Linked DNA regions of Homo sapiens: region 2 is linked to region 1. Evidence: fine-mapped expression QTL. A gene starts in region 1. The other region holds a variant in brackets. All regions are shown on one strand. Distances are from middle to middle. Region 1 holds the start of B4GALNT3 (beta-1,4-N-acetyl-galactosaminyltransferase 3). Region 2 overlaps B4GALNT3 (beta-1,4-N-acetyl-galactosaminyltransferase 3).

What was found. PIP is the estimated chance that this variant, and not a neighbour inherited with it, causes the effect. A credible set is the group of variants that fine-mapping cannot tell apart.
Region 2: its variant is the best candidate, but not a certain one, in a credible set for the expression of B4GALNT3 in tibial nerve (GTEx, PIP 0.82).

The regions. Positions count from the first base shown.
Region 1 is chr12:457,737-463,110 of GRCh38, forward strand. B4GALNT3 (beta-1,4-N-acetyl-galactosaminyltransferase 3) reads left to right here and starts at 2,203. Exons shown (of 20, transcript NM_173593.4): 1 at 2,203-2,809. The coding sequence starts at 2,641. RefSeq lists an enhancer at 1,371-2,354.
Region 2 is chr12:513,508-518,881 of GRCh38, forward strand. The region is part of intron 1 of B4GALNT3 (beta-1,4-N-acetyl-galactosaminyltransferase 3); the gene reads left to right. Among named protein-coding and RNA genes, the nearest start is that of B4GALNT3, 56 kb to the left of the region's middle. The variant A/AC (reference allele first, on the strand shown) is at 2,469.

The DNA of each region.
Region 1 (5,374 bases):
CAGTTCCTACATAATAGATGCTTCAAGCATTTGGTTGACCGAAGTGATTGCATGAGCTTTCTCAGTCTTGAGGAGAGAATTGTGGCAAGGCTGCCACCTGTTTCCATGACAAAGTGTTAAAAGTGACTCAACCTAAAATCCAGTTGGGTTGCCCTTAGTAAGAGAGGGACTCTATTTACAGGGCCCGGTCACTTCCCACTTGACTCAGCCGAGCTTGCACAGGCCGTGCACACACTGGCTGCTCCTATCTTGGACTTGTGGAAAGAAAGAAGAACATGAGAAGTACAGGAATCTGTGGCTTTGGAACTTCACAGAGACCTTTCCCAGGGGCTACAATTAGAGAATTGTCCTTTGGATTCACCCTTTTTGCTAAAGAACTGCAGTGAAAGTTCTGGAAGATGTTTGCTCAAAGTGCTACCCCCATCCTCAAACCTTCCTAAGTGCTAAGTGGACATTGTACCACCCACTGGAAATGCAGCTCCCATTTTTGAAGCCTTACAGTGAGGTTGGGAAAACAAGACTCACACACTCCAAGTAAGTTCCAACATATCAGATGGTGAGACAGATGGCAAGTTCTACTAAAGCTCCAGAAAGGAAGGAGTTGCTTAGGACTTGGCTGGTCCAAGAAAGCTTTATAGAATCTGAAATGGACCTTGGATAAAGGGTACAAGTTGACCAACTAGAAAAGAAAATGTGTTGGAGGGTAGTGAATAAACTCGTTTTAGCTGGAGCAGGTTTCATGTGGTCACATAAAGTTGGAAAAGGTTCTGGAAGGCCCTGAATTCTGGATTTACAGTGTGTATCTTAATCAATAAGCATTGGAAGCCATTAAATATTTTTGAGCAGGTGTGTGACTACATACGGGATTTTTTTTTTTTTTTTTTTTTTTTTGAGACAAGGTCTTGCTCTGTCACCCAGGCTGGAGTGCAGTGGCATGATTGTGGCTCACTACAACCTTACACTCCTCCCACCTCAGCCTCCCGAGTAAGTTAGGACTACAGGTGTGTGTCACCATGCCTGGCTTTTTATGAAGACCATCTGGTGGTAGTGGACAGGATGCGATGGGAAGCTTGGAGTTGGGGAGGCTAATTAGGAAAAGTCCTGTAGAAACTATTGAATATCCAACTGAGGTGAGAACAGAGAGAAGGGAAACATAGTTCTCAATTCTGTGAGAACCTCTGTCTTGGAACAGTACTTGTGTGATATTCATTTGATTTTAAAATGTCCAGGAACACTTTGATCCTTCACTTTTCCCATAGTCTCCTGACCATTTTTCCCAGAAGAGATAATGGAAAAGAAAACTGCAGTATAACTTGCTGAGTGACCTGGGGCAGTTATTCTGCCCCTTGATACTTTATCTAATTTAAATCAGATAATAATGCTTTACCTGCCTGAAGGCAGAGGACTGGAATACTGATTTTTTTTTTTTTGAGACAGGGTCTTGCTGTGTTGCCCAGGCTGGAGTGCACTGACGCAATCACGGCTCACTGCAGCCTTGACCTCCAGAGATCAAGAGATCCTCTTGCCTCAGCCTCTCAAAGTGCTGGGACGACAGCCGTGAGCCACTGTGCCTGGCTTATCTTGCTGATCTTTTCAACTCTAAGAGTGAATACTTTTCTTTTCTTTTTAAAATTCTTTTTCGGAACCCTCAAACACCTACTCTCTTCAAACAGCCATTCCAGCCCAGTCTGGGGAAAACTGCTTGCTGGGGTTCACCGTGGGGGCTGTACGACTTCCCCAGCGCCTCTCGGAGATGTGGTTCAGGCTGGGAAGAAAGGTCTTCAAATCTCAACTGGAAAACGAAGCTATGTCTGCGTTAAGCGTCCAGTGGCTCCCGTGATATTTCACGCCTACTGGTTTCGTCAAGCAGGGAGTCGGGTCGTTGCTGTTGGCGACGAAAGGCTCTGAGGCTAAAGCCTTGGGCGTCGCCCAAACCAGCCTCTACTTCGCTTCTGCCTAAAACCACACCGTTAGGCGCCTGGGTGGTGACTCGGTTTCCCTCGGTCACCCAGAGTCCGCATCATCACTCGCCCCCTCCTCATCCCACCCGTTCCCAGTCGGGGGAGGCACCAGGCACCAGTTCTCTGGCCCCACCTCTCGCTCCCCTAGGGAAGCCGAATGGCCTCTTCGCGTCCCTGGCTTCTCGGGGGCGGAGCCCACCTGTGCCCGGGGCGGGGGCGGGGGCGGGGCCGGGGGCGGGCCAGGTTCCGCGAGCAGGAGAGCCCAGAGCCCGGAGCCCGGTCCGGGGCTGGCGGGGGCGCGGGCGGAGGCAGGCGGGCGGGCGCCGGGGAAGCCTCCTTCTGGGCAGCGAGTGAGGGCGGGCGCGCAGGGAGGGAGGGCGGCAGCGAGCCTGCGACGGGAGAGGCGTGGGGAGGAGAGCCCGGCGCGGAACACACGCGCGGAGGAGGAGCCGGGCTCGGCTCCCGGAGAGACCTGCTGGGCGCCCGCGCAGCCCGGAGACCCCTCGCGCCCGGAGCATGAGCCCGAGCCCCGCCGGAGAGCGGCCGGGAGAGACGGCCTCGGCGCAGCCCTGAGACGCTGGGCCGGGACGCGGGGCGCCCTGGGCGCGGGGCCCGGCCGGGGGGCGGCGGCTCGGGGGGTTGGAGCCCGCGCTGGCGGCGGCCGCCTCGGCGCAGCGCCATGGGGAGCCCCCGGGCCGCGCGGCCCCCGCTGCTCCTGCGCCCGGTGAAGCTGCTGCGGAGGCGCTTCCGGCTGCTGCTGGCGCTCGCCGTGGTGTCTGTGGGGCTCTGGACTCTGTATCTGGAACTGGTGGCGTCGGCCCAGGTCGGCGGGAACCCCCTGAACCGGAGTAAGTAGCACCCAGGGGAGGCGAAGGGCGCGGGGGTGGGCGGCGGCGGCGGCTCCTGCGTTGGGGGGACCCGCCTCTCATCCCATCCTCAGACCCGATTTCCCACCCATTTCTCCCTCAGGTGCCCGGCGTCGCCCCGCGCGTACTCGGGGAGAGCTGCGGGCGGGGGAAGCCGCGGGGCCGAGCGCAGAATTCCCGAGCCCGGGCCTGCCCGCCGGCCACGTGGGTCCGGGGCACCCTGGGGGCTCCTCGCGTCTCCCCTCGGAGAGCGACCCGGAGAGAGGCTCCCCGCCCGTCCCGCCGAGACGCTGGCGGAGACCGGGCCCCTCCAGCCGCTCCGGGCTTGCGGTTCCCGGGGAGGAGGTCCGTGGGGTCCACGCGCGAGCTAGGGATTCGGGTGCGGGATGCCCTCGGCCGTCCACACCCAGGCGCGCGCTCCAGTCCGCGCAGCCCAAACTTTGCCCACCGCCTTCTGTTTGGCTCACTCCGTTTCCTCTCCTGCTGCATCTTCTAGGGGGGTTCTTTTTTACCATACCTCGGAGAGTCCCGTCTCTTCCCCGCTTCCCATACGTCGCTCCTCTCCCAGCCTCCGTCCTCGGCTCTTTGAATCTCCCACCTCCTCGCTGCGCCCTCTTTCTCCTGTTCGGGCCGCCCCTTCTGCCACTTTTCTGAACCCTGAGCAAATCTACCAAACTCCCCAGTTTAAGGAGATGATGGACAGCACAGTGGACCGGGCAGCAGGTAGATTCCTACTTCTGTTTTTAACTTAGCCAAAGCCACTTAATATTTCCGTGCCTCAGTTTCCTCCTAGGAAAACAGGAGAGCGTGGTCTCTTTGCCTTTTTACATCAATAGGTATGGCTGTGCGAGGTGGTTTTCAACGTACTGTGGATGGGCCTAACAAAGTAAAACTGACAGTGACAGGGGCCGTAAAAGATCCTGTAATAGTTGGGAAAAGAAATGGAGAAACTCCCGTTACTACCAGGTGCCCAACGCAAGCCCGGGGAGCCGAGGTTCAAAGTTCTGGCACGTGGCCTCCCATGCCTTCACTTTCCTCCCGCTTTGGGGAAACTCGGACAGAGTGGCTGAGCAAGCAGCTGAGAAGATACTCTGACTCTGACCTGTCGTCGTGTCAGCTTCTCTACCCAGAGTTGGGTGTGGTGCTGTGCCTTCTCTTGTGGCCAAAGAGAGAGAATTACTAGGGACAGTCGCTGAGCTGGTTCAGGTTGGAAATGTATATTTATGGCCTAACCTTTCTGTGGTGATGGAAATCATTCCGGCTGTGAGTTAGAGGAGACTGGCTCTGCCACTAACTAGCGGGGGAATCAAGGGAAAAACGACAGCTTCTCAGGTGAAAATGAGGCCTTTGGTCCAAATGATCTCCAAGGTGTCTTTCAGTCTGGATACGAAGACTGATCTGCACGCAAGCGTTTCCAGGGCCAGAGAGCTCAGCACATCACCAGGAAGCCATAGCTTCCACCCCGGGGCCACGACTCCAAGCAGCAGAGCCCCTTCCTCTGATGACCAAAATCTGCCGCCCATAGTGAATTCTTCCCTCCTCTGGGCCTTGTTCTTCCTTCTGAAAGACAGAGAGTGAATCTATTCTCCCCCGCCATGGCCACTCAGGCCCAAATGGATGAGCTCCTTTGGAGTGTGTGTGGGTGGGGGCCTGGGAGGCGACACCTCCTCCCAGTGTAGCCATCATTTTGTTTAGCCAGTGGGATCTTGTGCACAAATTAAAAACAGAGAGAAAGGCAGTTGCTTTGTGACCTTGGAATCAGTAACCTCCCTTTCTCCCTCTCCTCACTTTTCTTTTACCTCCGGTGTGTTTTCTCCCCAAACCTGGATCTAGTTTGCCACAGTCATAATCTGACACTCTGGCCCTCGACCTCTGCCTCTGTCTCCCGTGGGCCGCCTCATTCCGAGCCATCAATTCTTGAGTCTGTTGGGTTCCCCTCCCAGAAGAATCTTAACTCTCTGACTGGGTTTCCTTATTTTTTATTTTCTTTTCCAAACCAATTATCCAGAAAACTCTTCCCAGCCTCTATGCCAGAATTGACTTCGTTTCCTTACTCATGGTTTTTAACAGGAGGCTAAGCTCACACACTGATGCACCTTGTTTCCTCTCTCCTCTTAGAACCCTGAAATTCATCTATTGTGCAGGGTGTCTTTTTGTCCTGCGCTGTCCCGTTATATTCTACTCTCGATTTCCCTGTGGAATAAGATTTAGACTGGAGCTGTGGTTTCTGCCTCCTTGTCTCCCATCCTTTTTTGTTGTTAAGAAGCCCAGACATCTTGCATCAAAGTTCCCTCTTTTCCTATAGGTTTCATTCTCAGCTCAGAGCTATTCCTCTGGAGGGAGAGCCAGGGAGGAGGCATTAGGAAAGGAGAGGTGGGAAGGGGGTTGCTAGCATTCCCACCTCCACACTCTTGGATACCAACAGGAACCAGGGTAGTAAAACTGCACCTCCCAGGCCTGTACCTCTGGCCTCAACCACAGCAACCAGAACCAGCTTGTTGGCTCTGCTTTCCAGCAAGCCACCCTGCCTCCCCTCTCTAGCAATCC
Region 2 (5,374 bases), 56 kb after region 1:
CAGAGGTCACTTTTATCACCATCTTGGTTTTGGTGGGTTTTAGCCGGCTTCTTTCCTGCAGTCTGTTTTATCAGCAAGGTCTTTATGACCTGTATCTTATGCCTCCTATCTTATACCTCCTATCTCATTCTGTGATTAAGAATGGCTTAACTTACTGGGAATGCAGTCCAGCAGGTCTTAGCCTTATTTTAGCCAGCCTCTATTCAAGGTGGAGTTGCTCCAGCACCTCTGACAATAGCTCACTACGGCCTCAAACATTTTTGTATAGACGCGGTCTCCCTATGTTGCCCAGGCTGATCCCTAACTCCTGGCCTCAAGCAGTCCTCTGACCTCAGTTTCCCAAAGCATGCGGATTACAGGCGTGAGCCACTGTGCCCAGTCCATTTCTTTTTATTGCTAAGTTATATTCTGTTGTGTGGATAGACCACATTTTGCTTCTCCATTCATAGTTGATGATGGACATTTGCATTGTTTCCGCTTTTTGGCTATTAGGAATAATGCTGCGCTGAGGCTTTCATTTCTGTTGGGTGTATACCTGGGAATAGAACTGCTGGGTCAAATAGTAACTCCATGTTTTGAGGGACTGTCAGATTTTTCCAAATCGGCTACACCATTTTACATTCTCACCAGCCATGTATGAGGGTTCCAATTTCTCTATGTTCTTGCCAACACTTGTTATTGTCCGTTTTTGTTTTTTTTTTTTTTTTTGAGACGGAGTCTCGCTCTGTCCCCCAGGCTGGAGTGCAGTGGCGCGATCTTGGCTCACTGCAAGCTCCACCTCCCGGGTTCACGCCATTCTCCTGCCTCAGCCTCCCAAGTAGCTGGGACTACAGGTGCCCGCCACCACGCCTGGCTAATTTTTTGTATTTTTAGTAGAGGCGGGGTTTCACCGTGTTAGCCAGGATGGTCTCGATCTACTGACCTCGTGATCTGCCCGCCTCGGCCTCCCAAAGTGCTGGGATTACAGGCATGAGCCACCACGCCCAGCCTATTTTTTTTAAATAAAAGACTAATAAATTCTATTAGTATGAGAGCAAGGAGGAAGGCATGGAAGGTTGTTGCACTGTCAACATTAGTTATGGTGGGGAGGCAGAGAAGGAGAAGAGATGCTTTTTTTTCTTATTTATGTCTGATCACTGGTTGTGGTGAATACTTGGGATTTCTAGGAAACAAAAAAGGGTCCATGTATAAGAAGAGTTTAGAATTGAATCAGAATAGTGGTTAAGAACACAAATTCTGGGCTGGGCGTGGTGGCTTACACCTGTAATCCCAGCACTTTGGAAGGCCAAGGCGGGCAGATCACCTGAGGTCAGGAGCTCGAGACCAGCCTGGCCAACATGGTGAAACCTCGTCTCCACTAAAAATACAAAAATTAGCCAGGCTTGGTGGTGGGAGCCTGTAATCCCAGCTACTCGAGAGGCTGAGGCAAGAGAATCGCTTGAACCTGGGAGGTGGAGTCGAGATCGCACCACTGCACTTGAGCCTGGGTGACAGAGCAAGGCTCTGTCTCAAAAAGAAAAGAAAGAAAGAACACAAATTCTGGAACCAAAGACCTTGAGTTCCTGGCTCCACAACTTACTAGCCATGTGGCAAGTTACTTAACCTCTCTGAAGTTCAATTTCCTCATCTGTGAAAGGAAGGCAATAATAGTACCTACCTCAAAGGGGTTTTTTTGTTGTTGTCGTTGTTGTTGTTTTTTGAGACAGTCTCACTCTGTTGCCAGGCTGGAGTGCAGTGGCGCAATCTTGGCTTACTGCAACCTCCACCTCCCTGGGTTCAAGCGGTTCTCCTGCCTCAGCCTCCCGAGTACTGAGTAGCTGGGGCTACAGGCGGGCACCACCACACCCAGCTAATTTTTTTTTTCGTATTTTAGTAGAGACGGGGTTTCACCATGTTAGCCAGGGTGGTCTCAATCTCCTGACCTCGTGATCCACCTGCCTCAGCCTCCCAAAGTGCTGGGATTTTAGGCGTGAGCCACCGCACCCAGCCTCAAAGGGTTTTTATGACAATTAAAAGGGATAAATTTGTAAGATGTTTAAGACACTGCCTGGCATATTGTAAATGCTAAATGTGTTAGCTCTTATTGTTTTTATCATCTCGTATTTATCGAATATTTACCGTATGCCACTCTCATTTGATCCTCATAACCCCGTTTGGGAAATACTACTAATATAGCTGTTTCACAGAGATGAAAACCAAGGCTTAGAGATTAAGCTAGATGTCTTAGCGCCTGACTCTGAAGTTCTTCCCCTACTGCCTATAGGGATACTATTGTCAGTAACATTGTTTGTTGAACAAGTACCTATGTGCTGGGCATAATGAAAAAAGTAGACAAAAATCCTGCTTTCAGCCGGGCACAGTGGCTCATGCCTGTAATCCCAGCACTTTGGGAGGCTGAGACTGGTGGATCACGAGGTCAGGAGATCGAGACCATCCTGGCTAACGTGGTGAAACCCCATCTCTACTAA[A/AC]AACACACACACACACAAAAATTAGCCAGGCGTGGTGGCGGGTGCCTGTAGTCCCAGCTACTCGGGAGGCTAAGGCAGGAGAATGGCATGAACCCGGGAGGCAGAGCTTGCAGTGAGCCGAGATAGTGCCACTGCACTCCAGCCTGGGCGACAGAGCGAGACTCCGTCTCAAAAAAAAAAAAAAAAATCCTGCTTTCATGGAACATACATTCAAAGTATATGTGTGGGGAGAAGATAGATTTTATACACATGCACACATAATATGTCAAGTGGTAATAAATGCTATTGAGAAAAATAATACAGAGTTAGAAAGAGAGTGATAGGCTGGAGGTAGCGTGTTATTATAGATAGGATGATCAGGAAAGGCTTCTGATATTTGAGCAGAGATCTGAGTAAAAAGGGCAAGAAACCTTCGCAGGGAAGTGTGTTTTAGGTAGAGGACATGCAAAGGCCCGGGGTACAGCATGCCTGGCATATTGGAAGGACAGCAAGGAGATCAGGGTAGCTGGAATGAAATGGTGGTAAAGAGATAGGAGACAAGGTCGGAGATTTAATCTGCAAGGCCTTACTCGTTGAGCAACCATATAATTGATTGTTTAAATTGGAATATTTTTGAGAGTGAAAGCAGGTACCATTAATAATTGTCAGGGTAACAAGTGTAAACTGGGTCTTTCCCCAATAAACGTTACTCATTGGCCATCAGAAGGATCTTGGATTGTATTTGAGTGATTTGGGAAGTCACTGGAAGGTTCCAAGCAAGGACTGGCATGGCCTGACTTACATTTTGGTGGAGTTCCTCTGGCTACTAGACCATAGGTGCAGGGGTGGATACAAGGGGACTGGAAGAGCGATGATGTCTAGGACTGGAGTGGTGGAGACGGAGGAGGGAGAAGTCATCAGATTTTGGATGGCTTTTGAAAGTATGGCTGATGAGACTTGCTGAGGGATTGGATATGGGGAGAGGAATCAATGAGGGATTGGATATGGGGAGAGGAATCAAGTAGTTTGAAGATTTTTGACCTGGGTGGTTGGAAGGCTGGAGTTGTCATTTACAGGATGGAGAGGTGCAGGTTTGGGAGGAAAAATCAAGAGTTAGGTTAAGTTTCAGATGCCTTTGGTATCCAAGTGAGAGAGTGAGTAAGAAAATTCACTGTATAAGCGGGGAGTTCAGGCTAAGGCTAGGGAAGTCATCAATGTACAGATGGTGTCCCAAAAAACCTGCTGAGATCAGCAAGGCAGCAGTGTTGATGGCAAAGACAAATATCGGGGACTGACCCTAAGGTAAGCAATCCAGTGTTTAAAGGTTAAAGGAAAAATGAGGAGCATTTAGCAAAAGGATAAGGAGTAGCCCATGGGAGAAGATCAGGGATTACAGGGGAATCATAACCTTCTGCTTGACACACTTCTGTACTCTGTGATTTAGGGGGAGGGAGGTAAACATATGTTACTTGTATTTTAGAAACAAAGCTTCTGGGTTCCAGTCAGGGACCCAAGACAGGTGTCTTGTGGGAGGCGAGGGGGTTGGAGGTGGCCCTGTAAAATCTAGGTCTCTTTAGGGACAGTGATGTTATTTCCGTTTTATTTTATTTCAGTGATTTATTTACATTCCCAGACCCAGCAATTCCACCTTCCCCAAAATGCCTATTCATGACCTACTTCCCCATGATGTCTTCCCTGACCACCAGGATCCTCCTCTCTGGATTCCAGGAGACTTTGCTCAGTGCTCAGTTATGTACTTGTCATGTTATCAAACCCATCCTTCCTGCATGAAGCAGGGCTGTGCCATGGGGAAAGCATAGGAGAGGCAGGCTGGGTGTGAACTCCAGTCCAGCCATGCATTAGCGGCCGTGGCAGGACCATCAGCCATGACTTATCAATTCCTCACCAGTGGGGCTCCACAATACTGGCTTCACAGGATTGGAATGAGAATTAACCAGGCAGTAGTGGGAAGAGTGAGGTCTTTGAAACCAAACAGAATTAGTTTGAATCCCAGTTTAGCTACTTTTAAGATCTGGGGCAAATCATGTAAACTCTTTAAACCTCAGTTTTATCGTTAGGAAAATGGGGAGAATAGTACCTTACAGGGCTGTTGTGCATTGGAAATTAATTCATTCATTTACCTAATTCATCTTTCCAGCTGAATTATGAGGGTAGAGGGGTGAAACAACTGGGCTTTAAGATATTAAGGAACTTGCCAAAGGTCACAAGCTAAAAAGTGGCAGGGTGGGAATTCAGTTCCAGATCTTTCTGCTCTGAAAGTGGTTCTTACCCATCTTCAATCATCCACTCAGAGCCAAACAAGGCAGCTATGCGCAGTTGTCTCTTGGTATCCACGACGGATTGATTCCAGAATTCCCCATGGATACCAAAATCCGAGGATACTCAGGTCCCTTATATAAAATATGGTGCAGTATTTGCATATAACCTACATACATCCTTCCATATGATTTTTTTAAGACTCTGGGTCTCACTCTGTTCCCCAGGCTGGAGTGCAGTGGTGATCATAGCTCACTGCAGACTCCAACTCAGGGACTCAAGCAGTCCTCCCTCCTCAGCCTCTAGGACCACAGGCGTGTGCCACCATGCCCGGCTAATTGTTGTTGTTGTAAAGATGGGGTCTGTTGTGTTGCTCAGCCTGGTCTCCAACTCCTGGGCTCTAAGCTATCCTCCCACCTCAGCCTCTCAGAGTACTAGAATTACAGGCATGAGGCACTGTGCCCAGCCCCTCCCATATACTTTAAATCATCTGTAGATTACTTCTAATACTTAATACAATGCAATAGCATTTGCAGTTACATAGCATTGTAAATAGTTGTCATGCTGTGTATTTTTAACTTGTATTTTCTATTATCGTATTTTTTATTTTTATTTTTCTGAATATTTTCAATCGCTATTGGTTGAATCCA